Homo sapiens: one gene and its partners. The protein of the gene in region 3 purifies or fractionates together with the protein of the main gene of each other region. This does not show direct contact. Each region holds a gene or a part of one and is shown on either strand. Other genes may lie near its edges.

Evidence for each region. The genes of interacting proteins can lie anywhere in the genome.
Region 1: the proteins of FOXN2 (region 3) and RFX2 purify together in Homo sapiens (affinity purification with mass spectrometry; 2 studies listed by BioGRID and IntAct, with this or other methods). This does not show direct contact.
Region 2: the proteins of FOXN2 (region 3) and RIOK2 purify together in Homo sapiens (affinity purification with mass spectrometry; one large-scale study listed by BioGRID and IntAct). This does not show direct contact.

What each region holds. Positions count from the first base shown.
Region 1 is NC_000019.10:6,104,001-6,108,563, forward strand, and holds part of RFX2 (DNA-binding protein RFX2), read right to left. Parts: intron 1-4,563. UniProt on the Homo sapiens protein: Transcription factor that acts as a key regulator of spermatogenesis. Acts by regulating expression of genes required for the haploid phase during spermiogenesis, such as genes required for cilium assembly and function.
Region 2 is NC_000005.10:97,173,248-97,177,810, forward strand, and holds part of RIOK2 (serine/threonine-protein kinase RIO2), read right to left. Parts: coding exon 4,485-4,563; intron 4,045-4,484; coding exon 3,869-4,044; intron 2,069-3,868; exon of another isoform or gene 1,970-2,068; intron 17-1,969; coding exon 1-16. UniProt on the Homo sapiens protein: Serine/threonine-protein kinase involved in the final steps of cytoplasmic maturation of the 40S ribosomal subunit. Involved in export of the 40S pre-ribosome particles (pre-40S) from the nucleus to the cytoplasm.
Region 3 is NC_000002.12:48,354,881-48,360,506, forward strand, and holds part of FOXN2 (forkhead box protein N2), read left to right. Parts: intron 1-4,166; coding exon 4,167-4,267; intron 4,268-5,626. UniProt on the Homo sapiens protein: Binds to the purine-rich region in HTLV-I LTR.

The DNA of each region.
Region 1 (4,563 bases), on a different chromosome or scaffold from region 3:
TTTCTAATATAGCAACCACACGAGCTATTATTATCGATTTCACAGATGTCAAACCTTGCCCCAGAGCCACTAAGCTAATAAACGGTGGCACCACAATTTAACTCCTTCTCTGCTGTGCCCCAAAGCCCTGGTCTGCAACACCCAGCACTATGACCTGCAACTTTTCCTTTCCTCTTTCCCCTGCCCCATTCATCCAGATTCATCCAATTTGGGCTCTACTGACTCAGAGATGGCAATATGAACTTAAGGTACCTATGAGCAATTCTTAATTTAAAAAAAATTTTTTTGGCCGGGTGCGGTGGTTCACGCCTGTAATCCCAGCACTTTGGGAGGCTGAGGTGGGCGGATCATGAGGTCAGGAGATCGAGACCATCCTGGCTAACACGGTGAAACCCCGTCTCTACTAAAAATACAAAAAATTAGCCAGTTGTGGTGGTGGATGCCTGTAGTCCCAGCTACTCGGGAGGCTGAGGCAGGAGAATGGCCTGAACCTGGGAGGTGGAGCTTGCAGTGAGCTGAGATGGTGCCACTGCACTCCAGCCTGGGCAACAGAGTGAGACTCCATCTCAAAAAAAAAAAAAAAATTTTTAAGGGCAGGGTGTCGCTATGTTGCCCAGGCTGGTCTCAAACTCCTGGGTTCAAGCGATCCTCCTGCCCTAGCCTCCCAGGTAGCTGAGATTGCAGGTGTGAGCCACCACACCCAATGCAGCTCTCAACTCTTCATTTCTACATATGCTTTCCCCATAAGTGTCAAGGAAACCATTTGTTTATTCATTTCACAAATATTTCTCAATTGCCTACTCAGCACCAAAATTCTTCTCAGCCCTGGGGATATAGAAGTTAATAAAACAGCTCATGCCTGTAATCCCAGCACTTTGGGAGGCCGAGGTGGGCAGATCATGAGGTCAGGAGATCGAGACCATCTTGGCCAGCATGGTGAAACCCTGTCTCTACTAAAAATACAACAATTAGCTGAGCGTTGTGGCACGTGCCTGTAATCCCAGCTACTCAGGAGGCTGAGGCAGAAAAATTGCTTGAACCTGGGTGTCAGAGGTTGCAGTGAGCCGAGATTGCACCACTACACTCCAGCCTGGTGACAGAGTGAGACTCCGTCTCACAAAAAAAAAAAAAAAAGAAGTTAATAAAACAGAAGTTCCTGCCCTTACTGAGCTGACATTCTAACAAGAGGACAGTGATAATACAATAAATACGTATAACTTATGGTGTGTTATATAGGAATAAATGCTAAGGAGACAGAGAAAGCAGGGAAGGAGGCTGAGAGCACCCATTCTCAAGTGGGTGGCCTGGTGACATCTGAGAAAAGGCCTGAAGAAAGTCGGAGAGCCAGCCCTCCAAATACCTGGGCAAAGAGCTTTCCAGGCAGAGCTGGAATGAGCTTCCAGAGGCCAGCAGGGTGGAAGTGCAGTGAGGGAAGGCATCTAGCTTGGCGATGAGGTCAAAGAGGTATTAGGCTTGGCGGGGAGTGGAGTTAGGGGTGACTTTGGCTTTTGCTGCAGATGAGATGGGAGCCATCGGAGGGTTTCGAGCTGAGGGGTATGAAGTAGAACTTAACATGACGCCGCCTCTCCCAGGGTTAACAGGCCCCGTCTGGCTGCTGGGCTGAGAGACTGCCGAGCACCAGTGGTGGAATCATCCGGGCTAGATGCTGGTGGCTGGGACCAGAGGGGCTGGCAGTGGAGGTGGCGAGGCATGGTCAGGTTCTGGGGAACTACTGAAGGTGGAGTCAACAGGATTTGCTGATGGCTTGGGAGAGAGGAGTCAAGGACAGTCCTGAGGTTTGGCCTGAGTAATGGGAAGAAGTGAGTTGATATGTACCAACGAGTTTGGGGGGTGCTTTGGGAGGAGTAGATCTGGGGGGACTATGACAGGCTCAGCTTGGCCACCTTAAGTTTAAGGTGCCTGTCAGAATCCACCTGGATGTACCCAGCAGGCAGCTGGATAGATGTTTTCTGCAGAGAAGAGCTTAGAATCCTAAGCCAGTCCAGAGCTTCCCAGGCTCCAGTTCCCTATAGGCCTGTTAGGGCCTCTCTCTGGACCTTTTGCCACTCCTCCTTCACCTACCCTTATCCCTTTCGCCCACTTCATTCTGGGTCTTCCCCTATATTTTTTTTCCTGGGAGAATCCTTTTGCTGATCTTAGAGTTTCCAAGAAGCAAGTAGGTGGTTTTCAGTTTTTTCTCTAATTCCCAGTGTATATTCCATCGGCCTGCCCATCCATCCATCCATCCATCCATCCATCCATCCATCCAACAAAATAAGACCTTTCACTACACCAGGCATATGTCTACATGAGAGAACATGAGAACATGACCAGCAGAGGAGCTAATTGCCATTTAAATTCTAGAGACGGAGTCAAAACATCTTTTTAAAAAATACATAAGCCCACAACCCCTTACAACAATACTGAAATCCAGGAAACTCTGAAAACTGGCAATTTTTTTGTAAATTTGGCATGGACTCACTTGGTGACAAAAGCTGGCCTGAATTGACATGAAGTTACTTATGGTCCTTCTCTTCCCCACTTCGGGTGAATATTCATATAGTTCAGTTCAGAAATACGGCTGTGTTTAGTGGGAATGCCCTGGACCCATAGTTTCAGAGACAGGCCCACAGACTCGCATTCTCCTCCCCTGCAGTTTAGTGAGTGTCCTGACAAGCAAGATGAGAACTTCCCTTGGTTTTTCAAAAGTTTCCTATTTTACAAGTAAGTGGGTACCTATGGGGGTATACTGTTTAAATGTTTGTAAATATTTAAATATATTTGTTTTATATTTAACATATATTTATATTTAAATTTTATTATATTTAAATATATAAGTATATATTATATATACATGTTTTAATATTTCAATATATATTTTAAAAATATTTAAATATTTAATAAATAGATGTCAACTTTAGAAACAAATATATATTATAAGATGTGGTTCCTTCTGGCCCCAGCATTTTATGAGCAAAACAATCACTAGCTACTATAAAAATCCACAGGTGCCGGCCGGGCGCGGTGGCTCACGCCTATAATCCCAGCACTTTGGGAGGCCAAGGTGGGCGGATCACATGGTCAGGAGATCGAGACCATCCTGGCTAACACAGTGAAACCCCGTCTCTACTAAAAAATACGAAAAATTAGCCGGGCGTGGTGGCAGGCGCCTGTAGTCCCAGCTATTCGGGAGGCTGAGGCAGGAGAATGGTGTAAACCTCGGGGGTGGAGCTTGCAGTGAGCCGAGATGGTGCCACTGCACTCCAGCCTGGGAGACAGAGCAAGACTCTGTCTCAAACAAACAAACAAACAAACAAAAATCCACAGGTGCAGGGGCCGGGTTTGGTGGCTTACGCCTGTAATCCCAGCACTTTGGGAGGCCAAGGCGGTTGGATCATTTGAGGTCAAGAGTTTGAGACTAGCCTGGCCAACATAGTGAAACCCCATCCCTACTAAAAATACAAAAATTAGCCGGGTGTGGGGGTGCATGCCTGTAATCCCAGCTATTCAGGAGGCTGAGACAGGTGAATCCCTTGAGCCTGGGAGGTGCATGTTAAGGTGAGCTGAGATCTTGCCACTGCACTCCAGTCTGGGTGACAGAGTGAGACCCTGTCTCAAAAAAAAAAAAAAAAAAAAAAAAAAAATCCACAGGTGCATTTAAAATTTTGACTCGATTATAATATTAAAGTTAAGCCAATTTAATATTTTTATTAATTATAATGCTAATGTAAAACTAAACAATTAGATCTAAGGAATAAGACCCAGATAAACAATTCCCCAGCACCTGCATTTCTGGTGGACAGAACCATCCTTAGCAGTACTTCAATGATAAACAATGTTAAAAGATGAGTATTTACATTTAAATATACATCACATACACATTATATTATATTGTTGTATTTAAATATACATCACACATACATTAAGGTAATGCGTGCCCTTCACGCAGAAAGCAAAGATCAAGTGATTTCAAAGAACTTGTCCTGTTATTGAGGTAATAACTGTCTCTCTCTTCTCAGATTCAGTGGTTTATAAGAAAGAACTTAAAAAACTAAAATATTTCAGTATTGCTTTTCCTGCAGGAGCAAACTATTTCAGAACTCATTCCCAACCCAAGTCCGTTGAACTGTCACAGAATCACAGAACAGTGATCTTTCCCATCATACATTATAAGTTGCCTTCCGTACCACGCCTGTTGATGAAGAAGCCCTAGTAATTCAAGAACTTAAATTCTTTTCCTAGGGAGGTTACCATAAACTCTTACTTCTCTGGTCAGAGTAGGTGAGTTGTCGTTTCTAAGGTTATTTTAGAGTCAGTTCAAGTCTTTAAACTAGAGCAGGAGAAAGCACAGATGCCCCCCTCCTCCTTATCCAGAAGGACGGGAGGTAAGGATCTTTCCATAAGCAAACAATGTTTCAGGGCACGATGTAAAAAGATAAAATACATGTCAACAATATGTACAGGCAAAAATTTTTTTAAAAAGTCTTTGTTGTTTTGTGTCATTATTATTATTACTGTTACTTTGTTGGGGAACTCTTAGTTGAAACAGAGAATGAAGCTTGT
Region 2 (4,563 bases), on a different chromosome or scaffold from region 3:
TCCTCTCATACAATGCCTAAAATGTTGCAAAACAGGTGTAAGCTAATGAACAGGTCATTACTCTTTAAAGAACAATAAAAGTAAATATACCTTTCTACAACCAGAAAAAAAACACACAAACCTTTATAAAATTGTAGTTAACACATGGTTATTTATGCATAGCTTATTTATTCACTGCGTAGAATTAGCCACACATAAAAAGCAAATTTTAAACAAAAGTTTGAATTCACTTTTCCACAAAAAATGAACATTTACAAAATGTTATGCACTGTGCTGGGGTTACAAAAATGAATGTTAAAAAGTTTCTAAACACTCTAAAATTAGTGTCAAAAAGCCCCCAAGAAGCTTACAGTCTCTTAGGGTATATCCTTTCCTATTTTGTAAGTCTCTGACATTTGTTGAAATGTGCTCAAAATATTTAAATTGGAAACAAATTTAGGAAATACTCATCTTCGGACATATTAGGAAATGAGGCATTCTAAGAGATCAGACATTTTGGTTTATAGGGCACTGAACTTTTTCTCCAGGCCACAATATGCAATATAAATCTATTATGTGAAAAATATACACTGTTGTAGTCTGATTCAAGTGTTAAGACTCTCCATACATCTTTTCCCCTAAGCTTACTGTCTTCAATCTTACTGTTTACAAAGCCCTGTTATTACTTTCTTTAAAATACCTTAGATTTATGCCCTTTGACATTTAGAATGCTAGTATTAGGAATGGCAAAAACTGCAATTACTTTTGCACCAACATATACTTGTAAGGAGGCATATACCTCATTACTCCACAAGTGTTCTAGCTCTTGCCATCATACCTAACCTATTCTATGTACCAATACCAGACTAACCTGCTGATGTTAATATTCCATTTAAAAATATATACATTGGGATGGGCATGGAGTCTCACGTCTGTAACCCCAGCAATTTGGGAGGCCGAGGCGGGTGGATCAGTTGAGGTCAGGAGTTCGACACCAGCCTGCCAGCATGGTGAAACCCCATCTCTACTAAAAATACAAAAAAATTAGCCAGGCGTGGTGGCACATGCCTGTAGTCCCAGCTACCTGGGAGGCTGAGGCAGGAGAATCGCGTGAACCCGGGAGGCAGAGGTTGCAGTGAGTTGATATCGTGCCACTGCATTCTAGCCTGGGTGATAGAGCAAGACTACACCTCAAAAAAAGTTTTTTTTTACATTGGCTGTAAATTTTCTTTTCAGTTTGTAAATATAAACTTTTCCTGGTTTTCAAAACTCTTTAATCCACCTGTACAGTCCTAGTTCTCCCAATATTCTCTCCAATACACACCAAGAAACGCAGTCAGGACAGTCACCTCAGTGTCACCTAAACACATAGGACTCACATAGATTCATGTCATTGCCCATACCACTTCTCTGCCAAAATGCACTGTCTTAGGGTCAAATAATATCCAAGCTTCATGGCTCCACTCAGCTCCACTCACTACCTGAAACCTCCTCCATCAACTATTCTATCACTTACTGAAGTTTCTCTAAATTCAGTATATAATTAAAAAAAAAATTGTTCTTAGACTTGCAGTGGTGGCTCACGCTTATAACCCCGGTACTTTGGGAGGCCGAGGTGGGTGAATCTCTTGAGGCCAGGGGTTTGAGAGCAGCCTGGGCAACACAGCAAGGTCCTGTCTCTACAAAGCAGGCATGGTAGCACATGCCTGTGATCCTAGATACTTGGGAGGCTGAGGTGGGAGGATGGCTTGAGCCCAGGAGGTAGGGGCTGCAGTGAGCCGTGATCGTGCCACTGCACTCCAGCCTGGGTGACAGAGTGAGACCTTGTCTTGAAAATAAATAAATAAATAAATAAATAAATAAAAGGTTCTGTTTCATGTGTTATCTTCTCAACTTTAAGACACAGATCGTACTGGTTATTTCTTTGGCATCCACTCCTTCACCCTACACTACCCCAGCAATTAATTTCAAAAGGTTGTCTATTGCTTACCTTCTGTGAACAAGAACCAAACCACTTCCCACTTCCCAGATATTTTTCTTTGCTTTGTTTTTAAATACTTTTTTTCAGTGTAGACCATTTTGAGCATACCTAGACAGATCAATAGCACGTGATAAACTTAAAGATTGTGAATATTTGTCTAGAACTTGTGCTATCGCCTAGACCTCATGCTATAGCCCAATCTTTATCTTCTTGTTCCTCTCTTATGAATAATCAATACATTAAGGAGTGCATTTATGTGCAACCAGATTCCATTCCTATACCTTCAATATAAATATCCTGAAAAACACCTACTACCCTTTTGGGAAAATGTGTAAATGATCCCTACCAAGCTGCTCATTTACTGACTGAATATTACAAGATACAAACTATTAGTATAAGAAGTACATTGACATGTATGGTATCAGTATTACTAATTTATGCTGCCTTAAGAAATCTCCCATGATTAGTGAAAATTTAAGTATATAACCCACTCAAAGAACAAGCTGAATCCTCAAGAAACAGGTGTTCACACACTGTAGCAATCTTTAATTCACATTGTTTTGAAAAATGAAGATAAACTATGACAAATCCTACTGGCAGGATTATAAAAACACAATATTATCTTTTGTTTAACTTAGTTATTGTTGGATATATTTAATTTGGATATTATTATATTTAACAATCTATGCTGAACTTAATTTTGAAGGCAAAGTTAAAAATAAAGGATTTTTTTTTTTAATGTCAGGGGACAGTATAAATGTAGTCCGCCAGTGCCACAAAATATGCAGTCAAGTTCCAATATTTGGGGAAACTGCAGGGGTCAGCACACCTGAAGTGCAATGAATAGGCCTAACCCTGAGAAAACCGTCTTTGAGATTTTGACATTTCATCTGCCAGGTTAAGCATTTTTTTCTATTTGTATAAATGTATGAGGTACATGTAACATTTTGTTAAGTATATATGAGAAGTCATCAAGTCAGGGTATTTAGTGTGTTCATCTCCTGAGTACAATACATTTTGTTTACTATAGTCACCCTACTCTGCTATCAAACATTGAATGTATTCCTTCTAATTGTATGTTTGTATCCTTTAACCCACTTCTCTTCATCCTTACCTCTTAAAAACTAAAGATTTTTACCATTTTTGTTTTTTGAGACAGAGTCTTGCTCTGTTGCCCAGGCTTGAGTGCAGTGGCACAATCTTCACTCACTGCAACCTCTGCTTCCTGGGTTCAAGTGATTTTCCTGCTTCAGTCTCCCAAGTAGCTGGGATTACAGGTGGCCACCACCATCCCCGGCTAATTCTTGTATTTTTAGTAGGGATGGGGTTTCACCTTGTTGGTCAGGCTGGGCTCCTTACCTCAAGTAATCCGCCCACCTCGGCTTCCCAAAGTGCTGGTATTATAGGCATGAACCACTGCACCCAGCCAATTTTTACCATTTTTAATATACATATAAATCTATAAATGTTTGTTCCTTTATGTGAAACAAAAAACTAGCCAACTTATCTGAGACACTAAGGTTTCTACAGATGATAATTACCTGGTGTTTTCAATTAGAAACAGACATATGTATAGTTACATATATTGAATAGATATATATACATCCACACATACATATTTGTGAGGTAACAGCATCATTAATTACTTTTGGCTCTTTCATCTTGTCAGCATTACAGAATGTGTTGCCCTTATGCATTAGTAACAATTTAAAATACCTTAACGTAGAAGGAAATCACTTAAAAGAGCCCAAATAATCAACAGAGTTATTTAAGATTGAGTCTGTCTGTAGGAATTGAGTCTAAGGTTAGAGAGATGTGGGGACAACAGAATCACACTTGTCATTAAGGCCTTTGAGACACATGTATTATTTGGCTAAAAAATGCATGACTACAAAATAAAATAAATACCTTCATATAGGCAAATTCCTTCATGGCAGAGAGACGAGATAAATATAGCCATGACACATTGTGCCTATGTTTATGATAATCGCGTTTGTTTTTCAAATTTCGAAACGAGGTTCTTCCTAGTCTGTGAAGCTTTAATGCAAATTGTTGTCCTTCTTCATTTGCAACAATGTAAATATCTAGAGACAAAATTTCAAAAACAACCATTATTACACGTTTATTCCAATCAGTTAAAACAATTCTAACTTTCTCTAATTTTATTTGTATCAAAAATGTCATTTTTCCTAATAAAGATTGAGTATCCCTCCTTATCCAAAACCTTCGGACCAGAAGTGTTTTGAATTTTGGATTCTGGTATATTTGCACATAAATAATGATATATCTTGGGAGTTATTAGAAGAAAATTAATTCCTGGTATAAATGAATTTTCAGTGATAGACGTTCAGAGAAAATAATAACCTACTAATTAAGGACACCTTCTGATTTGTACTGCTTCCAATCAACTTTCCAACTTACTGTTTAGTTAGAAAAAAGGGAAAATTAAAAGAGGAAAGGTTTCTGAAGGGAAAACATAAACTAAAGCAAAGAAAATACTTTGCACAGTACTATTAGCACTTACCTGATTCTTTGCCAACACCCATCTGGTTTCCAACAGACTCAACTACTTGCCTAGAAGAAAGTGTTTTCAAAGCTAGGTA
Region 3 (5,626 bases):
AACAAAAAATGCTTTTTTATCTATTAGAATTCAAAAATTTTAAATATTTGAGGACATGAGTAAATATTGATACTTTCACATCATTGATAGGAGTACATTAATATGACCATTCTTGAGGGCAGTAGTTACTAGAATTAGAAATGGGCTCTTCTTTGATCTAGCAGATCATATTCTGATTTCTCCCCTAGAGTAACATTCATAGTTGCATACAAGAAGATGTATGTGAAAATATTCACAGTGGTATTATTTTTAGTAAAAGTTACAAAACCATATGTCCAATAGTATGATTTGTGATAATACTCAAAAGGGAGTTGGTCACATCTATAATTTTTAAATGTATACATTTTTAATGTAATTAATCTGAGTGTTTTGAATGTTCAGAGAAAGGAAGAAATTAAGGAAGTGAGAGCTAGAGAATGGGAAAGGATGCAGTCCAGAGTATAGGTAGAATTTGATAACGAAAAGGAGAGAAATCATCTTACAATTTTAAAAAAGGGATAAATATAGAAATGGTAATATATTGGCATAAAAATTAGCAAGCTATCACCACGAGTCAGGGTGGGAGGGAAGGAACTTGTAAATCGTCTCATAAAAATCAGTTAACTATTTTGCCTAAATGTCTGAGATTTAGACAGAAAGAGATACATTCAAGTAGATTTGGGAATGCATGTGGATTTTTTTTTTTTAATTTATGAAATGTTTCTTGGGTCAGTGACAGAATGACAGTATTTTTCTTCCAATCTGTGGAAGCCAAATATACTTAGTTGCACTAAATGTTAGCATTGCATTTGGCAACCTTGACAGCACTTTTCTGATGAATGGCGGTTATCTAGAGATGATAATCCCAATAGGAGGCAGAATGGCAAGGTCTAGATCAAACTATGAAGGGATAATGATAGCCAGCTGATACAGCTGCTGATTAAGATGTTTTTCTCCCTATCATCATACCATTTTTACTACTCTGAAAAGACAGGTCTAACAATCCTGGTTTGGTATTTATTTGTCTCTGGATTTTAAATTTGTTAAAATTATATATGGTTGTCTTTTGGTTCAGCTTGCTTTGGTTTGGGCTTTATGTTTTAAATGTTAACATCTGGCTGGGCACAGTGGCACTTACACCTGTAATTCCAGCACTCTGGTAGGTTGAGACACGACAATCACTTGAACCCGGAGGCAGAGGTTGCAGTGAGCCAAGATCGTGCCACTGCATTCCATCCTGGATGACAGAGCAAGACTCTGTCTCCAATTTAAAAAATAAATAAAAATAAAAATAAAAATTGGCCAGGCGTGGTGGCTCACGCCTGTAATCCCAACACTTTGGGAGCCGAGGCAGGTGGATCACTTGAGGTCAGGAGTTCGAGATCAGGCTGGCCAACATGGTGGAACCCTGTCTCTACTAAAAATACAAAAATTAGCCGGGCATGGTGGTGCACACCTGTAATCCCAGCTACTTGGGAGGCTGAGGCAAGGGAATCGTCCGAACCTGGGAGGCGGAGGTTGCAGTGAGCCGAGATCGCGCCACTGCACTCCAGCCTGATTGACACAGCGAGACTGTCTCAAAAAAAAAAAAGTTAATATCCAAGTCTTGTATGTACTTTTCTAAATTTTTATAAAGCCCATCTTAAACATTATTACTATGAGACTTTAGCTGGGAAACATGGAATTAAATTTTTTCCTAGTGTGGTAAAATTTTAATCAGTTAATTATTTTTAATTCAGAGGTTCTAAAAGCCACTGAAAATCATTACCACTTTATAGTTTTATCTAGGCCTTGCCATTTTGCCTTCTTTTTGGTAGTAGACAAGGTGAGCAACTCTATTAAAATATACAGGACAAGTTCATAAAAACATTTTAGGAATAATGAACGTTGCCTTTTCTCCCAATCTAGTCTTTACCACTTCTGTTAAGACAATTCTTTTTAAAGTTCACCTTTTAGTATATTCAAAATTTCTTCAAAACCTTTAGCAGTTCTCTACCAAGTAAGTTCAGAAGCCTTAGAGTTCTAAAACGCAAAATAATAAAATGAGAGAATGCTCATTTCCTGTTTCCGTAGCACAGAAGGCTATTTTGTTATAGGCAAATTTAGTTTTAAACAGTTATTATTTGTATTCTCTCATCTAAGCCCAATAATATAGGACCAAAGCTTTTAAGTGGAAAATTAGTTACAAATAAGTTTCTTTTTGCTGTAGACTTTAAAATGTAGATTAGCAAATACAGAGTTTTATCTCTTGTTCATGATAGTTCATGAACAGACCCAGTGAAAGGAAGTGCTGCCATGGTAACGTAAACCAGACTGTTACTTGAGACCATACTCAAGATACTTAACTGCCCTGAAACTGCACGTTTTCAATACCAGTTTTTCCAATTTGCTATTTCAAGGAAATAGCAACTCTACTGTGATCAAAACAATTTGCAGTCCCCTCACAATAGAATTTGAAAAGTAGACTTGAACTAAACAATTTCTAGGAGCGTAATCTCAGGAATTCCAAGGTAGAGCATGGCTAGCATTATTAAAATAATTGTCTTGGTCTGTGTATGAAAAGTAATGCTGCGTATCTTTTCTATATGAAACTGAATTGGCTTTGGGGCAAAAGATGTTGTAGGTGCTAACATTTTAATTCTTCCTTTTTTTTTTTTTGAGACAGCGTTTCACTCTGTCACCCAGGCTGGCCTCAGCCTCCTGAATAGCTGAGACTATAGGCGCGCACCACCACACCAGGCTAATTTTTTCTATTTTTGTAGAGACAGAGTTTTGCTATGTTGCTTAAGCTGCTCTTGAACTCCTGAGCACAAGCAATCACCTTCGCCGGCTTCCCAAAGTGCTAGGATTACAGACGTGAGCCACCGCACCTGGCCTGGTGCTAACATTTTTTTCCTTGTCATCAAAACACATTTATCATTTGGTCCAGGTGACTGAACATATAGCTAAGTTAAGAAGTTTCATTTAATCCAAAAATACATTTGTAAAACTTGTCTTTTATTGAAAAAAAAAAAAAAAAAAAGAAAATGTCAAATACTTTTTTAGTATAGTTAATGTGATATCTTGCTGCTAAACACCAGGAAAATGTTTCTCCTGATAATCCAGTGCATTTCTTTCTTTATGATAGTGTGATATGACAACCATGGTTTTTCTATTTATATAAATTGCCAGCATAGTAAAAAACTGCCTTACACTCAATTGCTACACCTTTTCACAGGCAAAAGGTTTTATTCTCTCCTAAATTAATTTTATCCCGTTTTTTTTTACCACCTAACTTTTGCCTTTTATTCAGAACTAATGTATTTTTTTCTTATTGTCGTTTTTTTTTCAAAATTCCCTCCTCGGTGGAAAGTAAAGGAGTAGGAACATACTATTATTCAACCAACATGCAGCAACCCTTACGTACGTCAGTTTCAGAATGGCCCCTTAATATTCACCTATTTTGCAGCTATGTCTCTTGCATATAAATCCTCTTATTTGAATCTCATTACAATTCAGTGAAGTGGCCTGCATTGTTGTTTTACTTTACGGGTAAAATGTAAATGAGAAGTCTGACTCTCAAAAATTAAATGATTTGCCCAATATCACATAGCCAGTCAATAAGTAGTGATCGGGACCTTGGTTTTTGAACCTATAGAACGGTGTTCTTTCATTTTGCCATTCTGCTATAAAAATTATGAAATGATATTCAGAGATAAAAGAGCGTCAATAATAGACTAGTAGTACCTTGAAAAAGAGTGTGGGAAATGGAAGGACTCTGGAGATCATCACATTAAATCTTAATAGCAATCATAATAGCTTATATCATAGAAGATTTGATACACGCAAAAAGGAGTATGAGAATGGGAAACAAGTAAATTTTGTTGTTATCTAAATAATTGTTAATGTAGTCGTAAAGGTAATTCAAATTTTAAGAAAGAGTTTTTGAAGTAGAAAAGGCATAATATAAAACCAGAAGCTAATAACATTTGAACCTCACTAATCTTGTGAATTAGAGGAAGTTTTGTACATCATAGGATGAATCCCTTTTAGTCACTACAGTGCACACATAGCAAGCTCACTTCAACCTTAGTTTCATACTCAAAAGGTGCTAGAGATTATTTACCCCTGCACATTTATTTAAAACATTTAGACGCTGACTGTTTATGTATAAAAGTTCCTAGTTATTCTTGTGCATTTTATTCTAGGTTAATGGAAAAGGTTCCTTATGGTGTGTTGATCCGGAATATAAACCCAATCTTATCCAGGCACTGAAGAAGCAACCTTTTTCTTCAGCATCTTCACAAAAGTAAGGATCTTCCATATAACTGTCAGTGGTGATTTATAGGATTTCACTGTGTGAGATGGAGAAACTTAAAGGTCCAGGGTATTATGTTTCTGTTTTATTGTATAAAGAAGTATTTATGTTTTATTTAGTTTTTAGTTTTTAGTTTTTGTTTTTGTTTTGTTTTGTGGACACAGTCTTACTCTGTCACCTAGGCTGGAGTGCAGTAGCGAGATCTCGGCTCACTGCAACCTCCCTCTCCTGGGTTCAGGTGATCCTCCCACCTCGGCCTCCCTAGTAGCTAGGACTACAGGCAAGCACCACCACTCCCAGCTAATCTTTGTCTTTTTAGTAGAGACACGGTTTCACCATGTTGGCCTGGGTGGTCTCTAACTCCTGACTTCAAGTGATCCTCCCACCTCTGCCTCCCAAAGTGCTGGGATTACAGGCGTGAGCCACCATCCTCGGCCTGTTTTTTCTTTTCTTTTCTTTTCTTTTCTTTTTTTAAGAAGTATTTATGGATAAGACATTAGCCTAAGTTAGTTTTCCTTATGGTCTAATTTGTGTTTCTAGAATACAGGAAATTGGTGACTTGAGAACATACACTCTGGGAAATATAGTCAATACTGAGTATAAGTAAACCCTAAAGAAAGTTGTAATATAATTTCAGTTACAAACAGGTCAGATCATTTTAATTGTCTGCAATACTAATGCTAACCTAAAAATGAAGGAAATTAAAAATACATTTAAAATTTTTTAACAAGATTATTAAGTTTGTCATTATAACATTTTATATACATATGTAGGTTTCTTTTTCTGTTTTAGGTTTTTTTCGTAGTACTTAATATTTGAAAAGTATGTTCAAGTCTAAAATTTTTAAATGTTTGGCAAATAAAATAATGCTTTGAACTTTGTTTTTATTTTTTCTGGTAAATATAGTTGTACTGTATTTGCTTATAATTTTCCTTGTCTTTGTTTTCAATCCCAGTAACCCCTGTTGATCTTCTAGCTTCCTCATTTTAAGTTAAATCGGAAAATAATATGACCTTCTTAAATCTGATTTTTGTTTCCTTTTTCTAAAGAAGACTTTAGAGTCTTCTCCAATTTATTATATACCTTCATTTGAATTGAAAATCCCAGATTTGGTTAAAATACTTTAAGGGTAGTTTATAATGGCTAACTTGTTTTTTGAAAAATTTAAAAAGATTTTTAATAAAGTAATAAATGGAAATTTTTAAACATGGAAAAAAGTAGAGAGAAAGTTATAATGAACTCCCAGCTGCAGCAATCATCAACGTTTCATATAGTGGTTAATTTGAATTCTTAAAGTATTGTTAGATAACTTGTAGAGGAGTGGTTGTAGCTGGAATACAGTAAATAGCT